4 linked regions of the Homo sapiens genome follow. The protein of the gene in region 1 purifies or fractionates together with the protein of each later gene. This does not show direct contact. Each region holds a gene or a part of one and is shown in the gene's direction. Other genes may lie near its edges. The genes, in order: ZAR1L, GPHN, ELAVL2 and CLUH.

Region 1 (7,443 bases):
TGAATGACTGAATATATAATCTTATTACATAATTGCTTAGAAACATGCGGCACCTACGCCAGGGAAACTCCTTCCAAATCATGATACTTATAGTATATCGGTAAAATAATCTCTGTCCTCTGTGATAGCTTGCAGAAATATAGTTTAGTTTAATTAACATCAAAACAAGTCCTAGGTTTTTTTGGCATAAGAAAGACGTAATTCAGCAAATCTCAGTTGGCAAATTTATCAAAGGAGGGATGAAAGAGAACATTTACTAAGTACCTACATTATTTAATTTAATCCAAACCTATGAGACATTATTTTCATCGTCTCCATTTTTCGAGTGAGGAAAAAGAGGCCAGAGAGACTGATTTGCCCAGCATGACACAATTAATGAATGAGCTAAGATTTTAACACAGGTTTGCCTAAATTCCTAGTTTGTAGTTCTCCCCAGTCTACCATATTGCATTACTTACCTAAGTCTAATTTGAATTTATCTAATTCTTTTACAGGAGATTGGTACAGCGGCAGAGTCAGCCCTTGCTCTTTGAATATTATTGGAGTTGAAGCCAGCTGATTATAAGATGGTTTCCTTTGTGGAGTTTTAAATAGGTTTGGTTCGTAATTGTTGTTTTTATGTTCAGATTCTTCTGCAGGTTCAGAATTATAGGGTGGAGCTTCTGAAGAAAGTTCTTCAAACCAATTAAGACTTATTGGTCCTAAATCTATTTAAAAAAAAAATCCCACCTTAGTTTTAACCAGTGACAGACAAATTTGTGACCCAGAACAGTTAAAGATCATAAGGAAAAAAATGCTTAAGATCTTGACTATGGATTACTTTTGTTAAGGCATATTAATTAAACAAGATCATTAATCCATTCTCTTGCGAATCTATAGAAAGGTGTAACAAGAGTTCACAAAAGTTACAAGATGGCATTTAACTATATTATTAAAAGCTGTATATATTAGCTTTTATTTTCATTTAAATTTTATTTATTTTCTTATTATTCATGGTTCGGAATCAAAAACTATTCACATTAAGAATACATTCCACGATAAAATTCGGCCAGGTGCGGGGGCTCACGCCTGTAATCCCAACACTTTGGGAGGCTGAGGCGAGCAGATCACGAGGTCAGATCGAGACCAACCTTGCTAACACGTTGAAACCCCATCTTTACTAAAAACACAAAAAATTAGCCAAGCATGGTGGCACACGCCTGTAGTCCCAGCTACTCCGGAGGCTGCCACAGGAGAATCACTTGAACCCAGGAGGCGGTGGTTGCAGTGAGCCGAGATCACGCCACTGCATTCCAGCCTGGGCAACAGAGCAAGACTGTGTCTCAAAAAAGAAAAAAAAAAAAATACATTCCACAGATAAAATTCAAAAAATTCAAATAATTCTGAAGAGTACTCAAGATGTGGCAAACTATGGGTATGAGGAACATGTGGACTCTCACATAAAATGGGAATTCTCTCTTAAAGGGAAATGACAAATTTGTATTGTGAGCTATTCATCCTCTACCATTACAGTTCAAAACTACTTTCATAATAACGCTATGGAATCATTTCCCTTTTTCATGATGTTGACATTTGTATCAACAGTGCAAAGATGATGCTGGGTAAAACTGCTGGCACATTTGCATGAGTTATGGCAGTGGCACCAAACTAATACTAGTAGCCATTATATTCCTTACCACTGAGTGTCCTTGTTAAAAATAATAGTAATAATAATGCCAGTTTAATGTAAGAATGTCCTAATGAAGCAGTAAAAATTAATTTCGAAGCTCAATGCTTTAGCACTTCTTTTAATAATCTCTGACAAAATAGGAAGCATACATAAAGCACTTCTGCATACTGAAGTACAATACTGCCTAGAAAAGCACTCATGTTGAGCTGTGATCTGAACAAGCAATTTTTTCAATGAAAAGTCATTTTTACTTGAAAGAACAGCTGACAAAGTTATTTCAACTTAAATAATTTGGTAGACATTTTCTCACAAATCAATGAAGTGATCTTGTTGCTGCAAGGAAAACAGTTTGTTGTCAATGACAAAATGTGAACTTTCAAATGAAAATTAGAATTTCCAGTGGCTCATTTCTACCCAATCTTAAAAGACTTTTCTGACATCCATGGTGGTATTAATGAATGAGATTTTTAAAATAGTTTAATGCAATTTATCAATATTTGGAAACTTTGTATAATTCAGAACACCACTATCTTCCAAATAATCACTGCATGATGTTGCGACATGGGAAAGACCTATGGTATATCTATTAGATCTTTGAAAAATCTATGCAAAGTACAAGGAAAAATACCAAAAAGTAACTGAAAACTATTAAAATATTCCTTTTTTCAACGTGAGGTTAATTTTTTTTCACATACTTCTACCAAAATAACAGATTAGACACAGATAAGTGAATCCAGCTATCTCTATTTAGCCAGACATTAAAGAGAACTGCAAAAATGTAAAAACTATTCCACTCACTTGTTTTCAAAAAGTTATTTTTCCTAAGAATGTTGTGATAATATGCAATGGGTTAGCTTTCATTATTTTTAAGTAAATTAACTTTAAATTCTTAGTTTTTTGTTTGTTTGTTTGTTTTGAGACAGAGTCATGCTATGTGGCCCAGGCTAGAGTGCAGTGGCATGATCTTGGCTCACTGCAACCTCTGCCTCCAGGGTTCAAGCGATTCTCCTGCCTCCACCTCCCGTGTAGCTGGGATTACAGGCACGCACCACCACACGCAGCACATTTTTTGTATTTTTAGTAGAGATAGGGTTTCACCATGTTGGCCAGGCTGGTCTCAAACTTCTGGCCTCAAGTGATCCGCCCACCTCGGCCTCCCAAAGTGCTGGGATTACAGGCGTGAGCCACCACGCCCAGCCTTAAATTCTTAGTTTTAAATTTCTAATATGGTAAGCTACATAAACAAAAGCACTCCGGGGGTCCTAGATCATTTTTAAGAGTATAAGGAGTACTGAAACCAAAAAGTTGGACAACTTCTGCCATAAAGTAACATTAATGCTTCTGATTTGTTAGTAATTGTTCCTACTGCTAGTCAAGGGGCCAGTTTCCTCTTTATCCACTAGACGTTCTATATTTATCATGTGGTTAACCTGCAAACGATGATTATGTTGTTAACTGGATTTATACACACATAAGGAACAGTTTATGGTTCTAAGCAACACTGTGACGTACTGGGTTTTTAGCAAGCATTTTTTAGAAAACACTTTCTCGGTGTAATTTATAAAGTTATATAAAATTTGTCAATACCTGCTTTGTTGCAGCGTGTCTTAAAAATTTCAAAAAATGTTGGCCTCTCTTTGGATCCAATAGGCATTTTTACCTACGATATTCCTCCAATGCTTGGTAAATAAGTCTGCAAAACAGAAGACCAAAATGCACTTACACAGGGATGCATTCCTTATTATGTGACTGAGGTAAAACTCAGAAGCGCTGGAAAATTTGTTTGAATTCTAATTCAGTCCCATCTCCTGGAACGGTAACAGCTTACTGTGAGGATGGGAACATTTTACAGCTGTGCTGTCCAAACCGGTGCCACTAGCCACATTAAGCACTCGAAACGTGGCTAGTGCGACTAGAGAAGAGGATTTTCATACGATTTAGTTTCAATCACGCTAACCAGTGACGCGTGGCTAGTGGGGACAGAGGGCTCCAGTTAGAGACCAACGCCGCCTGGTAATTCCCATCAGCATGTCTTCGGAATACAGCAATTACCAGGGGCTTAAGTAAGGCAAATACAGCGTGCCCAGCAGCTGTAAAACACTTCCCCAAAACAGCAATATTCCGTTAAAGTGATCGTGTTTCCAAGAAATTTCAGATGGCGTCATCTGGGACAGCTGGGAGGGAAGTTAAGTCTTGAGCTGAAGGCGGAGCCCAAAGGCCGGGCCGGAGGCGGGAAATGGAGACCCAGGGAAGGGGCGGGGCTCGAATTTGCTTGGCGAAAATCTGCCTTCGGGCAAGGACCTTTCTCTCAGGCATGGGTGGGGGTTGGCAGAGACAAAAGGGCAAGAAGCCGCGGCAGCGACCCGGGGCGTGAGGCGCTCCCCCGCCACGCTGGACTGGGACTGCGGAAGACGCGCTCGTCCCAACCCACTACCACCACCACTAACCCGCTCCAGAGGTGCAGTTCTTTTTTGGCCGGAGTAAGCTGACAAAAACCGCGCCGGTCACAAATCTGTCCCCTCACGCTTCTCCCGGCGGCGACCCACCGCCGCAAAAGACACCCGAGGCGCAGCAGAGGCGCAGCAGTGCCACAGCGGCTCCGCCTCTGCCGCCTAGTTTCAGAAGCTCGCGCCACAAGCCCGCGCTGGCCACGTGACGCCGTGACGCGACACGCAGCACACGCACCACCCGGAAGTCAGGCCTGGGTGGGCCGCTGCGGGTATTTCTCAGTGTGGCGAAAGGAAATTCCTTGTCAGGCATCCCAACCGTCAGTATCTGACCGAATAAAGCGGGAGCTGGAGTGTGTGTTCTCTTCTCGCTGACCCTTAAGAGTCCCAGGCCACCCTGCTTGGAGGGGCCGCCCCTATGCCTACTCCAAGTCCCCCATCCCTTTCTTTTTGCTCCAGCTCATGTTTGGGTGGGCGCCCTCGGGACACGACCTGGGACCTATGAAATACCTTTGTTCTGACCTTAAAAGGGATGTTCTCTCAAGACCTGTTCCCCAAAGCGAGCCGATCTTACAAAAGCTTAGAGTGGTCGGTGTGTGGTTGTGGATGACTTCACTTAGTGGTAGTGGGCGGGGCTGTTATTTGAAATCAGAGGATTTTAGTTCCAGTAGCTGTTCTGCTATTGGGTAGCAGGTGTTCAAGACCTCCGAGCCCGTTTCCTTGCTTGAAAAATTGTGAAACCCATCTTAACTCGCTCATGAAGTGTGAGGTACCTTGCTCCGCAGGGCTTGGTAGTATCTTTTGCTTTTTTTTTTGAGACGGAGTTTCGCTCTTGTGGCCCGGGCTGGTGTGCAATGGCGCAATCTCCGCTCACCGCAACTTCCGCCTCCAGGGATCAAGTGGTTCTCCTGCCTCAGCCTCCCGAGTAGCTGGGAATACAGGCATGGGCCACCACGCACGGCTAACTTTGCATTTTTAAGTAGAGACGGGGTTTCTCCGTTGTTGGTCAGTCTGGTCTCAACCTCCCGACCTCAGGTGATCTGCCTGCCTCGGCCTCCCAAAGCGCTGGGATTACAGGCATGAGCCACCACACCCGGCCCATCTTTTGCATTCTTAGGATTCGGATCACCTGTCTTCCTCGCAGGCTGAACTGGAAGACCTGACTTCATCTCCGAATTCGTTGGTTCTGTAACATGCCTAATACAAGGCTGAATAGGGTTTGTTGTAAGACCTACAAAACCTTCAAATGGATTCAGTGAGAGTTGCTCCCATGGGGGCCTTGCTGCTTCCAGAAGGTGCTTGAGCAGTAAACAGAAGCAACCTTGGATTAGGAAAAGGGTGGGCTCCGCTTGGTTCCTTAGGGACCATTTTAGTTTGATAATCAGTAATCCTTAGTTGTAGAAGGAGGCCTTACTAATGCAGATAGATTCTAAAGCTTTTGCTCTAAGTCTAATTCGCAAAGAAATACGTCTGTGATCCTTACTAATAACAGCTGCCACTTACCAAACATTTTATGAGTTAGGCATTCTGCTTTGGGTTTTCAAGCAATACCATGTTTAATCTTACAGTAATCCTGTAAATTGGTCAGTATTGTCAGATGAGGATACTGAATCAAGTAGTTAAGTAATGTGCCTGGTAGTAAGGCCCAGGTTTGAATTCTAGTCCATTTGACTTCATACACTTAACTAACCTGTGATTTATTTACCCTATAAATCAGAACAATATGCTTTGTCCCCTTTTTGTGGGGGAGGGGTGTCTCACTAGGAGTGGACTAATGAGAACCCGTGGCATGTCACACAAGTCTCAGAAATAACATTTTCTGTCATTTTATACAGCCCCCCATACCTTTATGTTTCTTGTTCTCTTTGTACCAGGGACTTGCAACTTATTAGCTCCACCATAATAGACTTTCTCACCTATTCTCTTCTAGTGCAGCTGCTCAATTTACTATTTGTATTCAATTTACAATATGCTTTAATTTTTCTTAAAAACATTATTTCCAGCTGGGCATGGTGGCTCACGCCTGTAATCACAGCACTTTGGGAGGCCAAGGTGGGCAGATCACCTGAGGTCAGGAGTTCGAGACCAGCCTGGCCAACATGGCAAAACCCTGTCTCTACTAAAAATACAAAAATTAACTGGGTGTGGTGGCATGTGCCTGTAATCCCAGCTACTTGGGAGGCTGAGGTGGGAGAATCACTTGAACCCCAGAGGCGGAAGTTGCAGTGAGCCGAAATCATGCCACTGCACTCCTGCCTGGGAGACAGAGCAAGGAAACTCCATTTCAAACAAGCAAACAAACAAAAACCCAAAAAACCATTATTTCCTAAAAGTTGTATATATTTAATGTGCACAACATGTATATGTACACAGTGAGATGATTACTATAGTCAAGCAATTAACATATCCATCTGTTCACATAATTACCTTTCTTTTGTGTGCGGTGAGAGCACCTGAAATTTCTCTTTGAAACTTTTCAGTATAAAATACAGTATTGTTAACTGTAGTCGTTATGCTGTAAATTAGATCTCTAGACTCATTCATTCTACCTAACTGTAACATTTTAGGCTCTGACCAGTCTCTCTCCATTCCCCCCAACTTCCTGTCCCTGGTAACCACCATTCTACTTTCTGCTTCTATGTATTTGACTTTTTCAGATTCCACATATCAGTGAGTTTATGCAGTATTTTTCTATCTGGCTTATTTCACTTAGCATAATGTTCCCCAGTTTCACCCATGTTGTTGCAAATGGCAGGATCTCCTGTTTTTTGTTTGTTTGTTTGTTTGAGACGGAGTCTTTCTCTCTCTGTTGCCCAGACTGGAGTGCAGTAGTGTGATCTCAGCTCACTGCAACCTTTGCCTCCCGGGTTCAGGTGATTCTCCAGCCTCAGCCTCCCGAGTAGCTGGGATTACAGGAGCGTGCCACCATACCCGGCTGATTTTTGTATTTTTATTAGAGGCAGGGTTTCATCATGTTGGCCAGGTTGGTCTCGAACTCCTGACCTTAGGTCATCTGCCTGCCTCGGCCTCCCAAACTGCTGGGATTACAGGTGTGAGCCACCGCGCCTGGCCAGGATCTCCTGTTTTAAGGCTGAATAATATTCCATTGTATAAATACATGCCACAATTTCTCTATCCATTTTTCTGTTAACAGACACTTAGATTGTTTCCATAACTTGGCTATTGTGCATAATGCTACAACGAACAAGGAAGTGAAGGTATCTCTTCAGGATATTGATTTCATTTCCTTTGGGTAAATACGCAGTGGTGGGATTACTGGATTATCTGGTACTTCTATTAACTTTTTTAAGGAACCTTCATACTGTT
Region 2 (7,023 bases), on another chromosome or scaffold:
CCTAAGTGCATTTCTTCCTCAGGCCAGTCATTTTCTATTAACATTATATCCTGAGGAGGCTTTAACTGAATTTCCCAATACACTTAGCCATAACCTAAAAAATAAAAGTCAAAAGATACTGGCACGTTCTTAGAGTCCTTCTCAGACATTAACAGACCAGAATGTCTCCCAGAATGATGCTACTCAGGTTTGCAGGCTTGTTGGATTCCAAAAATAAGAGTGGTCTCAGCAACATATGACTTCACTCTTTCAAGCATCTGTTACAGTTGAGCTAAGAAACAATGTCATCTCTTGTTCTGAACCTCTTTGGAGATACCAATGCAGTATTATTTCCCTTACTGCATAACCTATCCATTCATTCCTTTACCCTCAGCTACCATTCTTCCTTCTCTCTATTTATACCCAAACTTTTTCACCTTTTAAAGAGTTGTAAGGTTTGGCCACTGTGCTGATTCAGATTGCCGTTGGTAATACTAGTTTAGCAAGTTCCTCCTGCACAGTCTATTCCTATTCATTTAGAGTAGGATTGTATCCCTTACCTTCATTTTAGCTAGCATAGATAACAATAACCAAGAGATTGTGTGTTTAACTTCTTTCTTTATATTTTGCATCTCCTTATGCATCCAGTGAGATAACTTTTTGGGAATTATCTCCATTAACTAATCACAGTAAAGAAGCAATTCCATGCTGTGGTTGACACTGTCTTCACTCAGGGATCAAAGGTTCATCATCCCACACCCTCTCTTCACTTCCTAAGCCATGTATTTCAGTGAGTCAGGGTCTTTCTAGAAAATCTTATTTTTGACACCAACTGTAAGGAGTTTTAGCCAACTGCAAAAAATAGCCACCTACAAATGTGGAGTACTCCACAAAATTGCTCATTTCTGACCCTAATTGCAAATTCAGGAGATCCTAAAATGACCTTCAGGTTTAATAATTTACTAGCATTCATGGAACTCACAGAAAGCTGTTATACTCATGATTATTGTTCATTGCAAGGAAAGAATACGGATTAAAGTCAGCCAAGGGAGAAAGTGCATAGGGCAGAGTCTAACAGAAGTAACAAATGAGGAACTTCTGTTGTCCTCTCTCTTTGGAGACATGGACATGTCACCCTTCTGGCGTCAATCTGTGATACCACACATGGAGTAATGCCAGCTGGGGATGCTCACCTGAGCCTTTGGTATCCAGAGCTTTTATTGGGACTCAAACACTTACTGCCAGTGTGGCTGACCTGTAATCTTTAATCCTAAAGTAGAGAGAAGCAATTGGGGGCCTTCTATGTAGAAAGTGGGGTCAGAAGGCCAAGAAAGGGAGTATGAGTATATATCCAAGTCACTTAGGAACTTTTATGCAGGTGCAAAAAAACTTATGTCAAAGTGGCCACAAGATTATTTAATAGACAGATGAATGAAAGTCCATGTTTACTGCTAGACACGAAAGCTTTGTGTGAAATCTTGAATTAATGGGGAGAGAGGGAGGGTAGCCTATACCTGTCTGTTCTTTTCCTGATCCCTTTCCCTCATTCCTGAACTGCAGTCTAACATTGTTAGACTGTCTCTGGTGCCCAAAGTCCATGGACAACAAAGACATTCCTATTAGGCGTGAAATTCCAAGGACCTAGAGATCACTCCCAGAAGCTGAGTGTAAAGACCAGACCTCTCCTCGGTCAAGGTTAAATTCTTTACCACACAATCTTTAAAGAGTAAACTGATTGAGCCATACAAAGATAGGTCGAAAGATTAAACATCTTTCCCGATATTATGTAACCCTCCAAAAATTTTTAAGATTTTTTTTTTTACATCTTAGATTTTAAGCTATTACTTCAAATGTGAAAGAGAAAGACCTCCACCTCTTCTGCAGCTATAGCTGGCCTTATATTCTGATTTTTAGGTTCTTACCTATTCTCTTTTGGTAATACGTTATAGATAATAGTGAGCACCTCAGCAGCAGATTATATTAACTTTATGCAGTGCTCTTTGCAAGCTTATTTTATATTTTGCTTGCTGTACAATGTTACCTAGCTATACTTTATGATGGTAGTTAGAACTTTAGCTCTCTGGACAAAATAATCTGGTTCTCACCTCGGTTGTTAGTTCTACTGCCCTGCTCTAACTAAAAATATGAAACCTCTTTCCTGCCTTTTTTTAAACAACTTCAGTACCAATAAATCTTTATTCATTGTATTTTCCCAAGAAAAGGAGAAGGGATAGGAAAAGAGTCAGCATGTGTGTTAAAAAAATGATTAGAAGATGGGAAAAGAAGTAGAGAATACAGCAAAATCAACCATCAAATAAACATACCCCAGTGGTGGGGTCACCGAAGCCCAAACGGGCTCAATCTCCTGCAGTTCAAGAATGAGGGGTTGGGATTAGGAAAATAACAGACAGGTACAGGCTACTCTCCCTCCCCATAAATTCAAGATTTCACACAAAGGTTTGGTGTCTAGCAGTAAACACAGAGTTTCATTTGTCTGTCTCCTATTAAACAATCTTGTGGCCACTTTGACATAAGTTTCTTGCATCTGTGTAAAAGTTCCTGAGTGCCTTGGATATAAATATTCATATTCTTTTACTTAGCCTCCTGAGCCCACTTTCTGCATGGAAGGCCCCCAGTTGCTTCTCTCTACTTTTGGATTAAAGATTAAGTAGATTTGGCCAGGCGTTGGGGCTCAGGTCTGTAATCCCAGCACTTTGGGAGGCCGAGGTGGGCCGATCACAAGGTCAGGAGTTCAAGACCAGCCTGGCCAACATGGTGAAACCCCATCTCTACTAAAAATAAAAAAAAACTAGCCAGGCGTGGTGGCAGGCACCTGTAATCCCAGCTACTCAGGACGCTGAGGCAGAGAATTGCTTGAACCCAGGAGGCGGAGGTTGCAGTGAGACAAGATGGCGCCATTGCACTCCAGCCTGGGCGACAGAATGAGACTCCGTCTCAAAACAAACAAACAAAAAAAAATGGTTAACTAGATTTGACCCATCCAAGATACAGCAGTGTCTTAAGTGTTTGGCATGAATCACATCAAGAAATGGTCTTGACTCAGGAGGTTGGGAACAAGGGATGAAGGGCTCCTAGTTTCTTCAGGATTTTTGCATAAATCATTTAAGAGTTGTAGAAATAACGCAAGAATTAAATGTGTGTATGTGAGTATGTAAGTTTTCTCTTGGGGAGGAGGGGATGGAAAAGAGGGTAGTATACAAGTTTTTAGAATGTATTTATTTATTTATTTTTAGAGACAGAGTCTCACTGTGTCACCCTGGCTGGAATGCAGTTACACAATCATAGCTCACTGCAGCCTCAAACTCTTGGGCTTCTTTCCTATCTTTCCTGTCTTTCTCATAATGCATCTTTCAACTACCAAGTTGTATATAGAAATTTTACTTTTTTTAAAATGCAGTGCATGCTTTTTTTTTTTTTAGAGAATGAATCTGATTCTGACCATCCATGCCTGTCCTCAGTCTTATTTTTTTTTATTTTTCCATAAGTTATTGGGGTACAGGTGGTATTTGCTTACATGAGTAAGTTCTTTAGTGGTGATTTGTGAGATCCTGGTGCACCCTTCACCGAGAGGTATACACTGCACCATATTTGTTGTCTTACCCCTCACCCCCCACACTCTTTCCCATAAATTCCCATAAGTCCCCAAAGTTCATTGTGTCATTCCTATGCCTTTGCGTCCTCATAGCTTAGCTCCCACATATCAGTGAAAACATACGATGTTTGGTTTTCCATTTCTGAGTTACTTCACTTAGAATAATAGTCTGTAATCTCATCCAGGTCATTGCAAGTGGTGTTAATTCATTACTTTTTATGGCTGAGTAATATACCATCATATATATATAAAATAGTTTCTTTATCCACTCATTGATTGATGGGCATTTGGGTTGGTTCCACGATTTTGCAATTATGAATTATGCTGCTATAAACATGTGTGTGCAAGTGTCTTTTTTGAATAATGACTTCTTTTCCTCTGGGTAGATACCCAGTAGTGGGATTGCTGGATCAAATGGTAGTTCTACTTTTAGTTCTTTAAGGAATCTCCACAGTTTTCCTTAGTGGTTTCACTAGTTTACATTCCCACCAGCAGTGTAGAAGTGTTCCCTGTTTACCGCATCCATGCCAACATCTACTGTTTTTTGATTATTTGATTATGGCCATTCTTGCAGGAGTAAGGTGGTATTGTATTGCAGTTTTGATTTGCATTTCCCTGATCATTAGTGATGTTGAACATTTTTTCATATGTTTGTTGGCCGTTTGTATATCTTATTTTGAGAATTGTCTGTTCATGTCATTAGCCCACTTTTTGATGGGATTGTTTTTTTTTTTTTTTCTTACTGATTTGTTTGAGTTCGTTGTAGATTCTGGATATTAGCCCTTTGTCAGATGAGTAGATTGTGAAGATTACAAAACACTGCTGAAAGCAATCATAGACGACACAAACAAATGTAAACATATCCCATGCTCACGGATTAGTAGAATCAATAATGTGAAAATGACCATACTGCCAAATGCAATTTTCAAATTCTATGCCATTCCCATCAAAATACCACCATCATTCTTCACAGAGTTAAGAAAAACAATTCTGAAATTCATATGGCACCAAAAAAGAGCCCGCATAGCCAAAGCAAGACTAAGCAAAAAGAACAAATCTGGAGGCATCACATTACGTGATTTCAAACTACACTATAAGGCCATAGTCACCAAAACAGCATGGTACTGGTATAAAAATAGGCACATAGATCAATGGAACAGAATAGAGAACCTAGAAATAAAATCAAAAACTTAGAGCCAACTGATCTTCGACAAAGCAAACAAAAACATAAAGTAGGAAAAGGACACCCTTTTCAACAAAGGGCGCTGGGATAATTGGCTAGCCCTATGTAGGAGAATGAAACTTTATCCTCAACTCTCACCTTATACAAAAATCAACTCAAGATGAATTAAGGACTTAAACCTAAGACCTAAAACTATAAAAATTATAGAAGATAACATTGGAAAAACCCTTCTAGACATTGGCTTAGACAAGGATTTCATGACCAAAAACCCGAAAGCAATTGCAATAAAAACAAAGATAAATAGCTGGGACCTAATTTAAACTAAGGAGCTTTTGCATAGCAAAAGGAATAGTCAGCAGAGTGTATGTTTTTTTTTTTTTTGTCACTGTAACTATTTTTATTACATCACAATAATTAGGAGTAGTACAGTTCATGACAAAAATATTACAAATTTTAGATCATTTCACAGCACATACTCCTATAAACATTTAAAAGTTAATTTCAATTAAAAGAGTGGTCATTTTTAATGTTTCATATGACCAACATTGTAGCACTGTAGTTCCTTAGCTTATGGAGAATGCTATAACATATTTTATGCTTACTTCATGGCATATTGCTAAGACAATGTTTTACATATGATTGATTCTGAGATTGATGGAGGAAAATGCAAATCCAAAATCACGAAACAGTTTGATTGCCACCATCTTATATAATTACAAAAGTGCTTCATCTTAATTTTTTTTTCTTTCTCTTGCATACAGGAATGCTTTCAATTCATACTGCCAGCTCTACCTCATGCCATTGACCTTTTACGTGATGCCATTGTAAAAGTAAAGGAGGTGCATGATGAACTTGAAGATTTGCCTTCCCCACCTCCCCCTCTTTCCCCTCCTCCTACTACCAGCCCCCATAAACAGACAGAAGACAAAGGAGTTCAATGTGAGGAAGAGGAAGAAGAGAAGAAAGACAGTGGTGTTGCTTCAACAGAAGATAGTTCCTCATCACATATAACTGCAGCAGCCATTGCTGCCAAGGTAAGCCTGATGAGAGTTACTCAGAGGCCTAAAGGACCCACAGGTAAATGTACTGGTTTCATCTGTTTTGCATCGCATCCCTCCCTACATTTAATACTTCTTCAGAGAACCCTAAAAAAATAAGTGGGATGTCCATGACACTCCACTACTATGTTTCCTTCTTGATATAGATTCCTTGAAGTCACTGAAGTTAATTCTGAGTTCTGAGGCATTACTGATGAGCTGTTGCCTATTGAAGTAATAGCTACAATGATAAACAACGTGACATTTTAGAACTCTTTGGAGATGTCATTTTTGTGGACATATTAAATATATAATGTTTATATATTCAAAGTATCAAAATGTCACAAATTCTTAAAGGAACAGCAAACTGAAGGTAAAAGACCTTAGATGATTCAAGAAATGAGTTGGGAAAGATTAATAAAGATTTTTAAAGGGACAAAGCTTTTCAGCGATTGTTGAATTTTTCTTAACTAATAACTTATTCAAACATTGCTTGACACAAATTACCCTAGTGGTAAAGATAGGAAATGGATATATTTGCATTTCTACTTTAAGAAATATTATTAGGACAATATCAAAGTATTACAAATTCTCTTTGGGCAACTCCATGGGTAAATATACTACCATGAGTTACTTGAGTAAATTTAACTGTCTTAAAGTTATAGAACATGGTTTATTCTTCATACCTACTAAAGTCAACCTAGTATGCCTTAATATCTACAGAAAGTAGCATATCAATTCTGGAAATTATGATTTTTCATTAAGAGCATAAAGATTGAAAATTTAATTGCTATATGACATAATTATCAGATTTTATGGATTATCCAGTTATTTTGGCTACGAGCATTGTGAGGTTTTTTTTTTAATAATATATAGATTAGAATCATCGAGAAATCCTTTTGAAGTGTCCATTCAGTGATCCAGTGAGTGCTTACTAAAGGCTAGTAAGTATTTAAGTTTTGTGTGATTTTTTTTTTATGAAACCAATTGGTGAAACAGGCATTTTTAAATCATTATATGTTCCTTTTCCTTTACTCTGAATTAAAAGAGTAAGAAGTGCCATAAATTTCAATCTTAGGAGAGAAGCTTATGGCATTTAAAATCTAAGCTGATTCTGTCATTCTACATTTGGAAAATGTTAGCATTTCATTTTTCCATTTGTTTTTACCTTTTTTCCTTTTTAGTCATTTTGCTTGTATAGTTTCATGTTT
Region 3 (7,758 bases), on another chromosome or scaffold:
TAGTATCCCTGAAAGAAACGGACATAAGTCTCTGATTTGCCCTTTTTCACCTCCGGGTTTTTTGGGGTTTTTTTTCCTTCACCCTCGCCTAGTCGCCTAGATTTTCCCTTTTTATGCTCAGGAAAAACGTGAGTTTATCCTCCTAAAAGTTGCTATTGAGTAAAAGAGGGGAAGGAAATCTGGGGACATTTGTGGGAGCGTCTACATAAAATAATCGTCGATCTGAGGCTGCAAATATATTTTCCTAGACACTCTGGGACATGTGCAACAGATCTTAGTCTGAATATCTGCAGGCAAATCATCTAAAGGAGAATGAACCTCATACATTGGTCCAGGAAAAAAAAAAAAAAGGTGTGTGTGTGTGTGTGTGTGTGTAAGTGGGGGGCTGGGAAGGGAGAACCAACCTAGGCTGGTCTCAAAGATTTACCGCGACACTAGTTACATTTTTTAAAAGAACATTTAAATGAACAATTCATGTGTCTTTAAGTGTAAACAGCAACCTCAGGATTCGGGGGGAATATTCCTTGAGTGTGCTCTCTTACTTTACAGTCTTTCCCCCTTGAACAGGAGTTTACAGACACAATGTAAAGAGAAAGTAAAGGATGTTTGAGATCCCGCTCACTGCCGCCCCTGGCACTGTCCCTAACGAAAGTGTTTGCAATGTAAAGAATCTTTCGCAAAATAGTCTTGGGAGTCACTCACCTTCCAGTAAAAGGCTTTACCCCTTTGCTAGGGGGTGGAGGGAGCAGGGAGAAGAACGGGGGGAGGGAGCAAGGGTGAGCAGGCAGGCATTTTTGCTGCAATTCCAGCTGGGATATTCGAGGATTAAAAACTCTGGAGCAGGTTTACCAGACTTTTCGAAGACTACCTGGATTTGCATTTATTTTTCATGAACACTCTGAAGAAAGGCGAGCTCACGCCGGCAAGGGAGTGTATGTAAAACAGGACAGTGGAAGGTGCACAGCGAGTTCGGGGCTCTAAGTCTCCTGACAGTTTGTCATGATGGCTGAGTCCTAAGAAATGCCAGCCTAATTCAAAATAAATGAGTTTCTGTGGAGTAGGACAGTCTTTTCCGCAAAGTCCCGTGGAATAAAACATTCCCAAGACACGCAGTTTCCGTGTCTCACAGAAAGGGACAGAAAACACCGTCTCAAGCTTTGCAAATCTTAATTTGAGGGCTGCTCGTCTCTGTCCATGGTGCTAATTCCTGCCTCTTTCTCTTGCGTGGTTGCCACGGTATAAATTCACACTGGTGTCAATTTTCACAACTTTTCCCCCCTTTCGGTGAAAGGCAAGTCCACATACTACTTTAGGAAGAATAAATAAAAGAGTAATCAGCAAGATATATGATATCTGTATTTCTCATGCAGACATTAAACTATCATATTTCCAATAGTATGAACCATAACCCCCTACTCCACCATACTAACACATAACATTTTTATTCATCTAAGAAGGTTTACTGTTGGAAATTACTGCCTTAAGCCAAACATTGTAAACTAATTTTAATAGTTTAACTTCTTTATTTACTTACAAAACGTTACAAGTAGTTTACAGTAACTTTTATTACAAAATGTAAAATCACTCCTTCCCTTGCTCCCAGGACCTCTAGTGTAAGGGAGTTATTTATCCTAAAAGACATTTTCCACAACAGCTTTGCATATTCTTATGAATAAATGTTCTCTTATATAGAAACTTCAGTAAAATAATTAAATTCATGACTTTTTCGGTTTTGAGAACTATTCTTTTGCAACTTTATCCACCTCACACTTTTGCTCCAAGTTCGCAGTCATTCCCTTCATCTCTCCCTTTTCTGCTGCAATTCAAAATAATGCCAGGAACTTGGAAGATATGTCAGAGTTCATATAACTTAATCATATTCAAATGTCTTTTAAATACTTTCTAATGCAAATTCAGATGTTGTGGATAATTCTTTTACCAAACTATGAGTGAAAAGGGGTTGATTGCATTTTTTGCTTATTCTTAAGTGAGATGTTTGCACATAGGCTTCATTAATTAATCATAGGATAGTATGTATTTGTTAATGTTTCAAGCTATGAGACATGAATTTCAAAGTGAAATCTACATCCAGATATCACTTGTTTTAAAGAGGCTGTAATCAATATTTTTTATTTTTAAAAGTTGAAAAAGTACATGTTGCTTATAATACATCTATCCATTTAAAAGTTTTAAAATGTAAAAACATCTGTTTTAATGAGGAAGTAAAATAATATTTTAAGATACTTTCACTTTTTAAATAATTTAAGTCCATCTCACCTACATAAAAAGACAACATGTTAGGGATGACAATACTTTGAATAATATTTTGTCACTATGCCCAAGCTGAAAAAAAACCATAAATACTGAATCTACAGAATTTAGCATTTTTCATTTGAATGAACAAGTTTACTATTTTCCATGTAATTTCTTTACATAATACACATGCTAGATTTTTATTACTCCATATCACTCCCAGCTTTTCACACCTGTCCCTATCATTTTGGGTTATCTACAGATATCACAGTTATCTACAAGTCTTTTTTTGTGGATATAAACATGCACCAAAAAAAGTATTAGTTTCCACCTAGTTAGAAGGCACTTATATAATTATAATGGTAAAGATTTACTTCAATGTACTGAAATTATATGGGCATATGCAACTAATTCAATATTAACCTACGAGCATGGTAAAAAGGAGGAAAGACAATTCACTGCCTAGGTAAGTCTGATGAAATCAAACAGTATTATACTTTCCCCAAATTGTATTCATTTAAAGGTTATTTCTCTGTATGGAGCTGGGGACAAGGGGAGGGGTTGAAGGAAGATGACTACAAACCCAATCTTCTGTTATTCATACATCTAGTCTAGATGGGGTGGAGTCTTCCTTTTCCCCCTTGACTCCATTTCTTCAAAGTGCTTTTCTTTCTTCTTGCTGTGAGTTTCACCCAGGTCTAGAGAATAGTTTTAAGTTGAAATTAAGACTCCAGAGGTTGTTATACAAAAACTGGGGGTGGAGGTTAAGGCATGATTTTATAAACACTAATTATAAGATAACATAGATTCAGGCCTTCTTTCTCAAGCCCCAGGTATTGTCATGCAAAGTAACAGAACTCGTATATTGTTATACAGGCTACACGGGAGATAAACAGGTCTGTTTTTCACCATTAATCATTTATCAACACTCAAGGACACTCTCAAAGAACACTGATTTACTGTATTCCTCACTTCAAAGTCATTTTGCTTTGGGATCTTCTGTCCCATTCCCCTCCATGACACCCTACCCTTTTGCAATCTCTAACTCTTACCTGTGTCTTCTTTTTCCGGCATTCTCAAAGATAGCGACTAGTTGTAAATATGTAAAGGAATCCCTTTCAAAAAGGCATGTGCCTCTGGTTAAGACACATTACATGTGTAATGTAATGTGTACATTACATTTACACATTCTGGTAAGAATGGTAAAAACTGTCTAGGAAGTTGGTGCTATCTTTCAAGATTGAAAAGAGAAATGCTGGCTGGAAAAGAACGTAGGTCAAATGAATATTGTGTCTACTTATACATCCAGACGATCCTGAGGACCTCACTTTCACTTAGAGGAAGAAACAATTATCATGCATAAAACTGTATTTTGGTCTCCTGAATGCTGTTAAAATATGGGGTTGTAATAAAGTAGTCTTCCTCTATGAAGCAGAAGCATTGATAGCACTTGGTCTTCTGGTTAAACTTCTTAAATCCTCACAGAAAGAGCCCTGATAAAGGTTCAACTATCTTTGCTGTCAGCAATACATGTGTGGTCCAAGGACTGTACCTGTCTGCAAATGCAGAGGAGTGGCTTGTTCCAGTTTTATATACAGCTGCTCTTTTTGAGAATCATTAGACACCTCGAAGTGAAGGACCTTAGCTCTACTCAATACCTCTTTTTCTGGATAGGATATTTATCCTACACTTTTCTATTCTAACATGAAGTGAAAGCCAATTCAAACCGTGCAGCTTTATTTGAGAGCATTTCTGACTTCATCTTTATCTTAAAAGGATGCTTTAAAAAGGGGTTCATGGGGACACATAAATCTGAAATATGCGTATATTAAAATAAAGACATACAATTACCTAACATCTAATACAAAATACAGTACTGAACACAAATCGAAAAAAGGCATGCGGGCAAATAATGGATGTACATTCATCCCTTTCACTCAGATCAAAGAGAGGGAGCTCTCAATGACTCATACATACCGGACAGAGTTAAATGTTATAAAGAAATATGCCACAGATGCAGCAGTGATGGCAAAGGAAATGAATCTTTCTGAAGCAGAAAGATTTAAGAGGAAAGGAGATCGTGCCATATCGCAAACTCTGATAGTACAGTTCCAACCCTCCCACGTTGCTCTCTCCACATTTCTTTTTGCTTCTTGCATTTCCCTTCGCCGCCAGTGTTAAGAGTGTACCTCCCCGCACAACTTACCTTGAAACGGGACTCCATTGAGCTCTCGAGAGTGACACAAGCCCATAGCCAATCGTCTCACGCGGCCCCGCCTGGGCGGCCTCAATGGAAGCGTGTGGACCAATCAGGATCCTGGGGCGATGAGCAAGTTACGTTGTGGCGCGATTCGGCGTATACTTCCGCGCGTGCTGCCCGGGATAGGAGCCTGGCAGAGCAGCTGCACACACGGCAGTGCGGAGGCAGAGAAGGGGTTGGTGATACGGTGCTATAAATCTGTGGTCCAGTCCACCTCCCTTTTAAGACGTCCTCCCCCCTATTTCTGTTCTTAGTTAGAGATGCAGCAGCTTACTCCTGTAGCGACCTACTAAAAAGCAACAAGGAGAAAGACATCGTCTTTTTGAAAAAACGTTCTTTCGTCTCTTTTCTTTGTTCCTTGGTTTGTTTTTCTTGCCCCTTTTTGTTTAGTTGAACGGCAATAGGAGGGTAGTCTCTCCGTCTTTTTAAACTCTTTTTTAAGTTTCCCCTCCCCTTTCATATTTTTTTTCGCCATTTCTTTTAGCATTGGACTTTGGGGTCGAAAGCGTTTCTTTTTATTTGCTTCTTTTAAGCCGAGCACAGTTTAGGTTTCGTGCTGTCTTAAGAGAACTATCCAGCAGCTTCTTGCTCATCCTTATTGGGAGAACTGCACCGTTACTTTAAAAACACACATACACAAAAACCTTAAGGGAGAAAGGTAAGTTTCGGTTTGGTTTCTTTAATCATTAGTTGCAGCGATGCGCTGGCAAACCCAGAAAACCTGTAAGTGAGCGGAATACAGAATATGAAGTTAATTGCACATGTTTGTCTCATTTCAAAGCTACTGTTCTGCTTTTTTAATTTTAAAGAGCTAGACTAAAAGACGGTGGACGCATGCTTAGCGTACTGAATATTCGTAAATGTCCATGGCAGAAACTTAAGTGGTAAATGTGGCCAGGGGGGAGTAGGGGTACAATGGGAGGTTAGATGTGGAGTGAGCTTCAAGATTGAGATCGGAAGTTCATTTCGTGGGGAGAGAGTGATAACTTGGGTGTTGGGGATGCATGCCTCTACTTTGGCTCAGCAACGGAAGGACGGGAGAGGCTTTACAATCATTAAGGGGAATCAGAAGCCTGGACTGGCAGATTAGACCAGCGAAAACCACAGGCTTAATTGCATTAACCAGATAGCATGTGCTGGGGAGATGGGATTGCCAGATGGAATTTAGATGCTGCACCAGGCAGCGAGTTGTAGTTGACTGAAAAAAGTACATGCCGCCTGAGGGCTGGGGCTGGGGCTGGGCTGAGGCTAGGGTTGTTAGAAGCTGTCAGAACTCATCATTGTATGCGGGCTCTGATTCACGGACTCCAATTATCATAATTCAGTTTTAAAAGAAGATAGCCAATTTGGGGCTGAATTCTTAAGCCTGTACCGGATATGAGATTCCCTTTGTTCAGAAAAGCGTAAATAAGATCCTTGGAGCTGTGTCTATGAAGTGCCGGCTGCTTGGGAGCCTCGCTGTGCTGGGCGCTGGGAAGTGGATTCCAAGCCCTGTCCTTGGTCCTACGCGGCTGACTTCGCCTTCGGGGAGAGGGGGAACCCCTCTGCAGCCGCGAGGCTTCGCAGCCACCCCAGGAGCCAACTCGGCCACGTAGCCCTCACCCCCTCCTTACCGCCCCCACTTCCTCGAATAGCTATTGTTAAATTGACGCCAGGAGAAAGATGGTTGGGGATGACAAGCTGGGCAGATAGGCACACGCTTCATTTTAACTTTTGTGATTTCTCAGGGTTTAGGAGAAATCATTTGGCTTTCTACTGCCAAAGAGAGGATCCAGGGTAGATGTGGGAAAGGGGGAGGATGTTCGTGGGCCGGGGAGGGCGGAAGGGGTGGTGGTGGTGGAACAAGCTGCTGGCTTTCCTAAGAGAAGTTTAAATTATTGGCACGAGGGGGTGTGGGTGAGTGTGTGCGTGAGAGCGCTCATGTGGTGCTCGAGAGGCAGAGGATGGGAAAAAGCTACAAAGCCGGCTGGGGTTAACGTCTCGTTGCTCCTCACCCCACCCACTCTACCGGCTGGGAAAGCCAGCGCACCGTCAGCCTCCCGGACTGGACTCTGCGAAGGGCGGTGGGGGCTAGGGATGGCAAGGTGGCAGTGCCCACCACTGGAGCTCCGCGGCGGACGAGACCTCGCGTGGCCATTGTTGCTTAATTTATGCCCAGCACGTTGCTACGTACCCACCTATTTCACGTCTGTACAGAATTAATACGAAAGCTATACAACTGTGACAAATTGGAGGTTGGATAAGTTCCCCGTTTCCCATTTTCAAGTACCGGTTAGCAAAACTGATGGCGAGACTGGGTATTTTCTCGTAATTACCGGCTGCAGGTCTGGTTTTATTATGGCGAGGGTGAGAGAAATAGCCAACCATTTAGTATTTACTGTTAACACTGCTGGACAGGGATGGAGGTCTCTGTACTTTCTCCCCGAAATGCACGGATTCTGTCCCTTCCCCCTCTCATGTACAAACACTCCAGTTGGTTAAGATTCTAAACCTTCAGCCGTTCTCCGCACCCCTATTTATTATACCCATCCTCTGGGGGTGGGAGGGAGATTAATGTTTTATTTCCCAGGCCTACACTATTAACTGCAACCTATAAAACGTAGACTTACAATGAAAATTTTTAGAAAGTACACAGCAGACAATAGTAACTAAAGAAATTATTTTCCAAATTGAAAATCAGTTTCTAAAGGTCAGAAAAAGGGTGTTCGTGTTTTGGGGAACAGAAGGGTAGGAAATGTGTTTGGGCCTTAAGACTTCCTTGTAAAATGGCTTCTTAAATGGGACATCTGAAAGATTTGTCAGACTATGAACAGATAAGCCCGCAAAAAAATATGTTGAGAGTTTCGAAGTTGTTATGGGGTTAACATTTTATTTTTTAACTCTCGCCCTTACTTATTGCTGTCATTGCCTGAATGTGTCTTACAGCAGGCACTTCTTCCCCGTTCCCTCTTTTAACCAAGTGCTTGGGCACCCCGCTTCATAAAGCTAACCTGTTCTGGAGCTCTTCACAAAAAACGCTACGGTTGTAGGAAGAAGTGGTTTGGAAGACTTGGGGAACTCTTCTGAGAGCTCTCCCATAATTTAGTCAGCGTCAGGAAGTAGGGCGTAGGGCATTCTAAGAGTTTTAGGTTTGGATTGACAAATTAAGTAGGCCCATTTTCGCCTAACGTTTTGGAAATAGGCATTTTTAGCAATCCCGCGTGCCTGGGATGAGAATATTATAATTAACTATTTACTGAGAGGTC
Region 4 (7,023 bases), on another chromosome or scaffold:
GGCCCTGGGTGGCCCTGTGCTGACCACCAGCCTCGGGTCCCTCAGACAGCGGGAAGCGGAAGAAGGGCTTGGAGATGGACCCCATCGACTGCACACCACCCGAGTACATCCTGCCAGGGAGCCGGGAGCGGCCACTGTGTCCCCTGCAGCCCCAAAACCGTGACTGGAAGGTAGGATCCTGGGGGAGGGAGGAAGAGGGTCCCTGGCGGGGTGGAGGCCCCACACCAGAGGCCTGGCCCCTCAGACTCGGCCGCTCCCGAAGCCCTTGCAGTGCCTGAAAGTACTCACCATGAGCGGATGGAACCCGCCCCCGGGGAACCGGAAGATGCACGGGGACCTCATGTACCTGTTTGTGATCACAGCCGAGGACCGGCAAGTCAGCATCACCGCGTCCACACGGGGCTTTTACCTGAATCAGTGAGTCCCTGCCAGCCCACCACACCCCCCTGCCGTGCCAGCCGTCCTGGGTCTGGGCAGACACCTGGGCCCCCGCTCAGTGCCCGCCCTCTCCCTGCAGGTCCACAGCTTATCACTTCAACCCCAAGCCCGCCAGCCCCCGCTTCCTAAGCCATTCCCTAGTGGAGCTGCTCAACCAGATCAGCCCGACCTTCAAGAAGAACTTCGCTGTGCTGCAGAAGAAAAGGTAGTGCCTTTGTCCCCTCCCGCCTTGTCTCATGGCACACGGGGGCATGGGGTGAGCCGGCCCACCTGCACTCCAGTGCTTCTGTCTGAAGAAACCGCCCTGGGCCCCCAGTGTTGGAGTCCCCGCTCTAGGGAGCTGTCGGCCAGTGCCGAGACAGCAGCCGCAGGAGAGGCGCCCGTGCACTTCCATCTGGCTCCAGGGCAGTGTCTCAGGGTGGGAGATGCCGGAGCAGGCGGGGGCCTCAGAAAAGGGGCCCGTGGAAGGGCTCTGAGCTTGGTGGGCTGCCCCATCTCCCCCTCCCCTGCCTGCCACAGGGTCCAGCGCCACCCGTTCGAGAGGATCGCCACCCCATTCCAGGTGTACAGCTGGACAGCCCCCCAGGCGGAGCATGCCATGGATTGCGTGCGTGCAGAGGACGCCTACACCTCGAGGCTGGGCTATGAGGAGCACATTCCTGGACAGGTGCCTGCAACCTGGCCCTGCCCTCGCTGGGCACCCCTGCCCTCCTGGGTGCTGGGCTGGTTCCGTGCACTTCCCTGGAGGCCCCATGCTTGACTTCATTTGGGAGTCTGGGGCTCTTCTCAGGAAGGTAGAAGGAGCGACTTCCGGGAGCAGGTCACAGGGCACAGGCTGAGCTCGTTTTTCCCTCCCTGATCTCTCTGCAGACCCGAGACTGGAATGAGGAGCTGCAGACGACGAGGGAGCTGCCTCGCAAGAACCTGCCTGAGCGGCTGCTCCGAGAAAGGGCCATATTCAAGGTGCCTGCAGCCTCTGCTGACCGGCAGTCTGAGGCCCGCTGTCCACCTGCTGACGGGTTTTCTCATGGAGAGGAGGAAAGCAAGGGAGGCAGGGGCAGCCCTAACCCTGTCAGGTTCCCCGAAGGCCAGTCAGCGTCTCCCGCAGGGTCTGCTAGCCTTCCGCCTCCCAGCAGACCATCCCAGTACCTTTCTCTGGCCTCTCTGAGGCTTTGAGTCCCTGGAAGGAGCGGGCCCTACTTCCCATAGGGACTGAGTGTCCAGGGCCGTGCAGCTTCCCGCCCTCTGTGACTGCTGCGGGGCTTTTGCCTGGGCGAGCACTGGCCGGCCATGGCCCTTCTAGGGCGGGTGCTCATTTGCATAACACTTTTAGTTTGCTGGGGTTTAAAAGTTATTAGTGCTGGGTTACTAAGAGAAATGAGGAAAAGCAGTTGCTTAAGAAAAAAAAAATCTCAGGCCGGCTTCAGTAGCTCATGCCTGTAATCCCAGCACTTTGGGAGGCCGAGGCGGGCGGATCACAAGGTCAGGAGTTCAAGACCAGCCTGGCCAATATGGGGAAACCCCATCTCCACTAAAAATACAAAAATTAGCTGGGTGTGGTGGCGCATGCCTGTAGTCCCAGCTACTCGGGAGTCTGAGACAGGAGAATTGCTTGAACCCAATAGGCGGAGGTTGCAGTGAGCCGAAATTGCATCACTGCACTCCAGCCTGGGCGACAGAACAAGACTACGTCTCAAAAAAAAAAAAAAGAAATCTCAGCCAGGCACAGTGGCTCACGCCTGTAATCCTAGCACTTTGGGAGGCTGAGACAGGCAGATCACTTGAGCCCAGGAGTTGGAAACCAGCCTACGAAACATGGTGAAACCTCGTCTCTGCAAAAAATACAAAAGATTAGCCAGGCATGGTGGCATGTGCCTGTAGTCCCAGCTACTCGGGAGGCTGGAGTGGGAGGATGGCCTGAGCCAGGGGAAGTCGAGGCTTCAGTGAGCTCGGATCTCGTGCCGCTGCATTCCAGCCTTGGCAACAGCGTGATACCCTGTCTGAAAACAACCAACCTCCCATAGTTATACTGCCTAGAGATGATAATTGTAGAAACAAAAACTCATTTCTCGGGTACCGACTTCACCAGAGATGGTGCCAAGTGCGTTATAGAGACTATTTCCTATAATATATTGGACAACTTGTAAAGGTCAATACCTTTATCTGTTCAAGTTCACCTGGCACATAACTGGTGGATCCCAAACCTGCGCACGCTTGTTAATCACTAAGCCCTGCTGTCTCCCTCAGCACAAGTGTATTCTCAAAACATGGGGGTTTTGGTTTGTTTGCGCTTTTTTAGAAATGGAGTCTCACTCTGTCCCCCAGGCTGGAGTGCAGTGGTGTGATTTCGGCTCACTGTAACCTCCACCTCCCGGGTTCAAGCAATTCTCCTGCCTCAGCCTGTCGGGTGGCTGGGACTACAGGCGCGCGCCACCTCGCCTGGCTGATTTTTTTTGTATTTTTATTAGAGATGGGGTTTCACCATATTGGTCAGGCTGGTCTCGAACTCGTGACCTCAAGTGGTCTGACCGCCTCGGCCCCTCAAAGTGCTGGGATTACAGGTGTGAGCCACCGCGCCCGGCCAAAACATGGTTTTCTTGCCCTTTTCTACATATGAGGAAACTGAGGCTCCGGGTCCTTGGGTTTCCAAGGCAGGCCCGGTTGCCTCCGCGGTCTAGGTGCGTGCGCTTGGCCAGGTGGATGCAGGCTCTTGTGGGCGCGGCCTCTAACCCTGCCCTCCTCGACCCCCGCCAGGTGCACAGCGACTTCACCGCGGCAGCCACCAGGGGCGCCATGGCCGTCATTGACGGCAACGTGATGGCCATCAACCCCAGCGAGGAGACCAAGATGCAGATGTTCATCTGGAACAACATCTTCTTCAGCCTGGGCTTCGACGTCCGAGACCACTACAAGGACTTCGGGGGGGACGTGGCGGCCTACGTGGCGCCCACCAACGACCTGAATGGCGTCCGCACGTACAACGCGGTGGACGTGGAGGGGCTGTACACGCTGGGCACGGTGGTGGTGGATTACCGCGGCTACCGGGTCACGGCCCAGTCCATCATCCCCGGCATCCTGGAGCGGGACCAGGAGCAGAGCGTCATCTACGGCTCCATCGACTTCGGCAAGACCGTGGTGTCACACCCGCGGTACCTGGAGCTGCTGGAGCGCACGAGTCGGCCCCTCAAGATCCTGCGGCACCAGGTGCTCAACGACCGTGACGAGGAGGTGGAGCTCTGCTCCTCGGTCGAGTGCAAGGGCATCATTGGCAACGACGGGCGCCACTACATCCTCGACCTGCTGCGCACCTTCCCCCCGGACCTCAACTTCCTGCCCGTGCCTGGCGAGGAGCTGCCTGAGGAATGCGCCCGCGCCGGCTTCCCCCGCGCCCACCGGCACAAGCTCTGCTGCCTGCGCCAGGAGCTGGTGGACGCCTTCGTGGAGCACAGGTGAGGGGCGGCCCTGCCGGACCAGGGCCGGGGCCAGCTGCAGGGAGTGCGGGCGCCCTGGGTGGATCCGGGGTTGGGTCCTTGAAGGGAGAAGCGCTGGAGAGTGAAGAAGGGCTCCGTCTAGCCACAGTCATTGGAGACCCGTCCCCACCTGCCCTGCTGTCAGGCTCCCGAGCGCAGAAACCCGGGCTGCAGACTCGCGAGCAGCCAGGCGGGTAATGTGGCTGTGGCGGACACTGTTCTCTTAAGGAGCACTTGGAAGTCTGGGTGGCTGTGACTGTCCCCGTGCTGGGGCGGGCAGGTGGGGCACCGGGGGTCCCCGCCGCTGGTGTTTAGTGCTTAGGAAATGGGGAAATGGCCATGTCAGAGGTCCCACAGCATGAGTAACTCTCAAATGCCAGTGGCTTCCTGTCACTGTTGAGAGCCCTGACCTGGATGGGGAGCTCCTCTTTTCCCATACCCTCCAGAACGCAGCTGCCTTTTTTTTTTTTTTTCTGAGACGGAGTTTCACTCTTGTCGCCTAGGCTGGAGTGCAATGGCACGATCCCGGCTCACCGCAACCTCTGCCTCCCGGGTTCAAGTGATTCTCCTGTCTGAGCCTCCCGAATAGCTGGTATTACAGGCGTGCACCACCACGCCCAGCTAATTTTTTGTATTTTTAGTAGAGACGGGGTTTCTCCATGGTGGTCAGGCTGGTCTCGAACTCCCAACCTCAAGTGATCTGCCTGCCTCGTCCTCAAAGTGCTGGGATTACAGGCGTGAGCCACCACGCCCGGCCGCCTTTTTCTTCCTGTCTTGGGAGATCTTGGTTTTTCTGCGTTGACTCATGCACACCGGCCAGGAGGTGCCCTATGCCTGCGGGGTGTGGAGCCCCAGCTGCCGGGAGCCGTGGGCCAGCAGAGCTCCTCTCCCCGATGTCCAGCTCCTGCTCTGCCCTGTTTCCTCTGCTCCAGGTACCTCCTCTTTATGAAGCTGGCCGCCTTGCAGCTGATGCAGCAGAACGCCAGCCAGCTGGAGACCCCCTCCTCCCTGGAAAATGGTGGTCCTTCCTCCTTGGAGTCCAAGTCTGAGGATCCTCCAGGACAGGAGGCGGGAAGTGAGGAGGAGGGTAGCAGCGCCAGCGGCCTGGCCAAGGTGAAGGAGCTGGCAGAGACCATCGCCGCAGACGACGGCACAGGTGGGGCTGCTGCAGATGGCCGGGAGAGAGCCCGGGCTGGCCCTGCCAGGGTGGCTTATGACCCCCACCTGGGAGAGGCTGGCAGACATCTCTGCAAGGAGCTAGGGGGCGAGGCTTGGCGCAGCCCAGCTCCACCGGTGGCAGAGGGGACCCGTGTCTCATGGAGCCATGTCTCCACAGCAGACCCTCGGAGCCGGGAGGTGATCCGCAACGCGTGCAAGGCGGTCGGCTCCATCAGCAGCACCGCCTTCGACATTCGCTTCAATCCTGACATCTTCTCACCAGGCAGGTGGTGGGGGCCGGCCAGCGCAGGAGCCCTCCAGGGCCAGAGCTTCGCTGGGGGGCCTGGGCCCTTGGGGCTGGTGGGTTTGTCCCCCATCTGAGCGCTTCCCCCGCCAGCGCCAGGCGGCATTTGTCTTGCCACTGCCTGGCTCAGCCTCTCTGCTCTCCCTCCTCCAGGGGTTCGTTTCCCTGAGTCCTGCCAGGATGAAGTTCGGGACCAGAAGCAGCTGCTGAAGGACGCGGCTGCCTTCCTGCTCTCCTGCCAGATCCCTGGCTTGGTGAGGGAGGGGCTGCGGGGCTGGGTGGGGCTTGTGTGGAGGGTGCTGGTCCCTCATCTGTCTCCGACTTGGAGGCCCATGAACACAGGCTCGCAGGAGTGACTTTTTCAGCTTTCCCTGAGTGGGCATCCCCGTTTGACAGATGGGGAGCCTGACCCCCAGAGGTCAAGGGCACAGGCCCTGCTGAGCCCACCGTGTGGGCTGGCAGCTGGTAATCCAGTCTTCTGAGCCCTGGATGGTGGCATGGCTGGGGGACGGGGCCAGAGCTCAGTGGGGGCTGCCCATCCTCCTCCTCCTCCCGCAGGCTCTGTGTCTGGTTCCAGGATGCTGGGTGCTCCCCCAACACCGTGGCCTCCAAGCCTCAGGACACGGGGCTGGGGGTCAAGTAGTGCCCCCAAGCGGGCACCTCTGCTTCTCCCACATGGTTAGAGGGGGCCTGTACCACCACCGGGCTCTTGGTTCTTGGCCTGCGCTCCTGCCAGAGGCTGGGCACATTCTGACATCCTGACTGGGAGCTGGAGCCTTCGGGGTCCTTCTCCAGGGCCTCCCAGGATAGCTGTGCTCCCCCAGAAGGACTCAGTTGGGTGGAGGCAGAGGAGCTGGGTGGGGGCCTGAGCTGCTGCAGCCCGCAGGTGAAGGACTGCATGGAGCACGCGGTCCTGCCCGTGGACGGGGCAACGCTGGCAGAGGTGATGCGCCAGCGGGGCATCAACATGCGCTACCTGGGCAAGGTGCTGGAGCTGGTGCTGCGGAGCCCGGCCCGCCACCAGCTGGACCACGTCTTTGTGAGTGCTGCCCGGGGTGGGGCGGAACGGGAGCTGTGGGACTGGGATGGAGGCCGGGGGCCTGACCAAGACCTCCCTTCTGAATCCTTCCAGAAAATCGGCATTGGAGAACTCATCACCCGCTCGGCCAAGCACATCTTCAAGACGTACTTACAGGTGCCACCCGTCCGCTCTGCGGCTGGCCATGGCCTCCCAGGGTGGTGTGGGGCGTCGGGAAAGAGCCTGAGGTGGGGCTGAGGGCCCTCATGACTCGGATCCAACCTGCCTCGCAGGGAGTCGAGCTCTCCGGCCTCTCAGCCGCCATCAGCCACTTCCTGAACTGCTTCCTGAGCTCCTACCCAAACCCCGTGGCCCACCTGCCCGCCGACGAGCTGGTCTCCAAGAAGCGGAATAAGAGGAGGAAAAACCGGCCCCCGGGGGCTGCAGATAACACAGCCTGGGCTGTCATGACCCCCCAGGAGCTCTGGAAGAACATCTGCCAGGAGGCCAAGAACTACTTTGACTTCGACCTCGAGTGGTGCGTGCGGGGCAGGGGCGGTGGGGTGGGTGGGATTGGGCAGATGAGGCGGCCACCACCTGCTCCCAGATGGCGTCTAAGGCCTGTGGTCATAGGC

Evidence for each region.
Region 2: the proteins of ZAR1L (region 1) and GPHN purify together in Homo sapiens (co-immunoprecipitation; 2 studies listed by BioGRID and IntAct, with this or other methods). This does not show direct contact.
Region 3: the proteins of ZAR1L (region 1) and ELAVL2 purify together in Homo sapiens (co-immunoprecipitation; 2 studies listed by BioGRID and IntAct, with this or other methods). This does not show direct contact.
Region 4: the proteins of ZAR1L (region 1) and CLUH purify together in Homo sapiens (co-immunoprecipitation; 2 studies listed by BioGRID and IntAct, with this or other methods). This does not show direct contact.

Annotation. Positions count from the first base shown.
Region 1 is NC_000013.11:32,312,341-32,319,783, reverse strand, and holds the start of ZAR1L (protein ZAR1-like), read left to right. Parts: upstream 1-4,420; 5' UTR 4,421-4,469; intron 4,470-4,638; exon of another isoform or gene 4,639-4,707; intron 4,708-5,233; 5' UTR 5,234-5,454; intron 5,455-7,443. Other genes in the region: BRCA2 (breast cancer type 2 susceptibility protein), read right to left, coding at 459-707, 3,257-3,323. UniProt on the Homo sapiens protein: mRNA-binding protein required for maternal mRNA storage, translation and degradation during oocyte maturation.
Region 2 is NC_000014.9:66,917,130-66,924,152, forward strand, and holds part of GPHN (gephyrin), read left to right. Parts: intron 1-5,536; coding exon 5,537-5,809; intron 5,810-7,023. UniProt on the Homo sapiens protein: Microtubule-associated protein involved in membrane protein-cytoskeleton interactions. It is thought to anchor the inhibitory glycine receptor (GLYR) to subsynaptic microtubules.
Region 3 is NC_000009.12:23,823,219-23,830,976, reverse strand, and holds the start of ELAVL2 (ELAV-like protein 2), read left to right. Parts: upstream 1-4,736; 5' UTR 4,737-5,171; intron 5,172-7,758.
Region 4 is NC_000017.11:2,694,760-2,701,782, reverse strand, and holds part of CLUH (clustered mitochondria protein homolog), read left to right. Parts: intron 1-45; coding exon 46-170; intron 171-262; coding exon 263-417; intron 418-517; coding exon 518-643; intron 644-957; coding exon 958-1,105; intron 1,106-1,308; coding exon 1,309-1,401; intron 1,402-3,192; coding exon 3,193-3,887; intron 3,888-4,840; coding exon 4,841-5,064; intron 5,065-5,244; coding exon 5,245-5,349; intron 5,350-5,523; coding exon 5,524-5,624; intron 5,625-6,256; coding exon 6,257-6,409; intron 6,410-6,502; coding exon 6,503-6,565; intron 6,566-6,681; coding exon 6,682-6,926; intron 6,927-7,023. UniProt on the Homo sapiens protein: mRNA-binding protein involved in proper cytoplasmic distribution of mitochondria.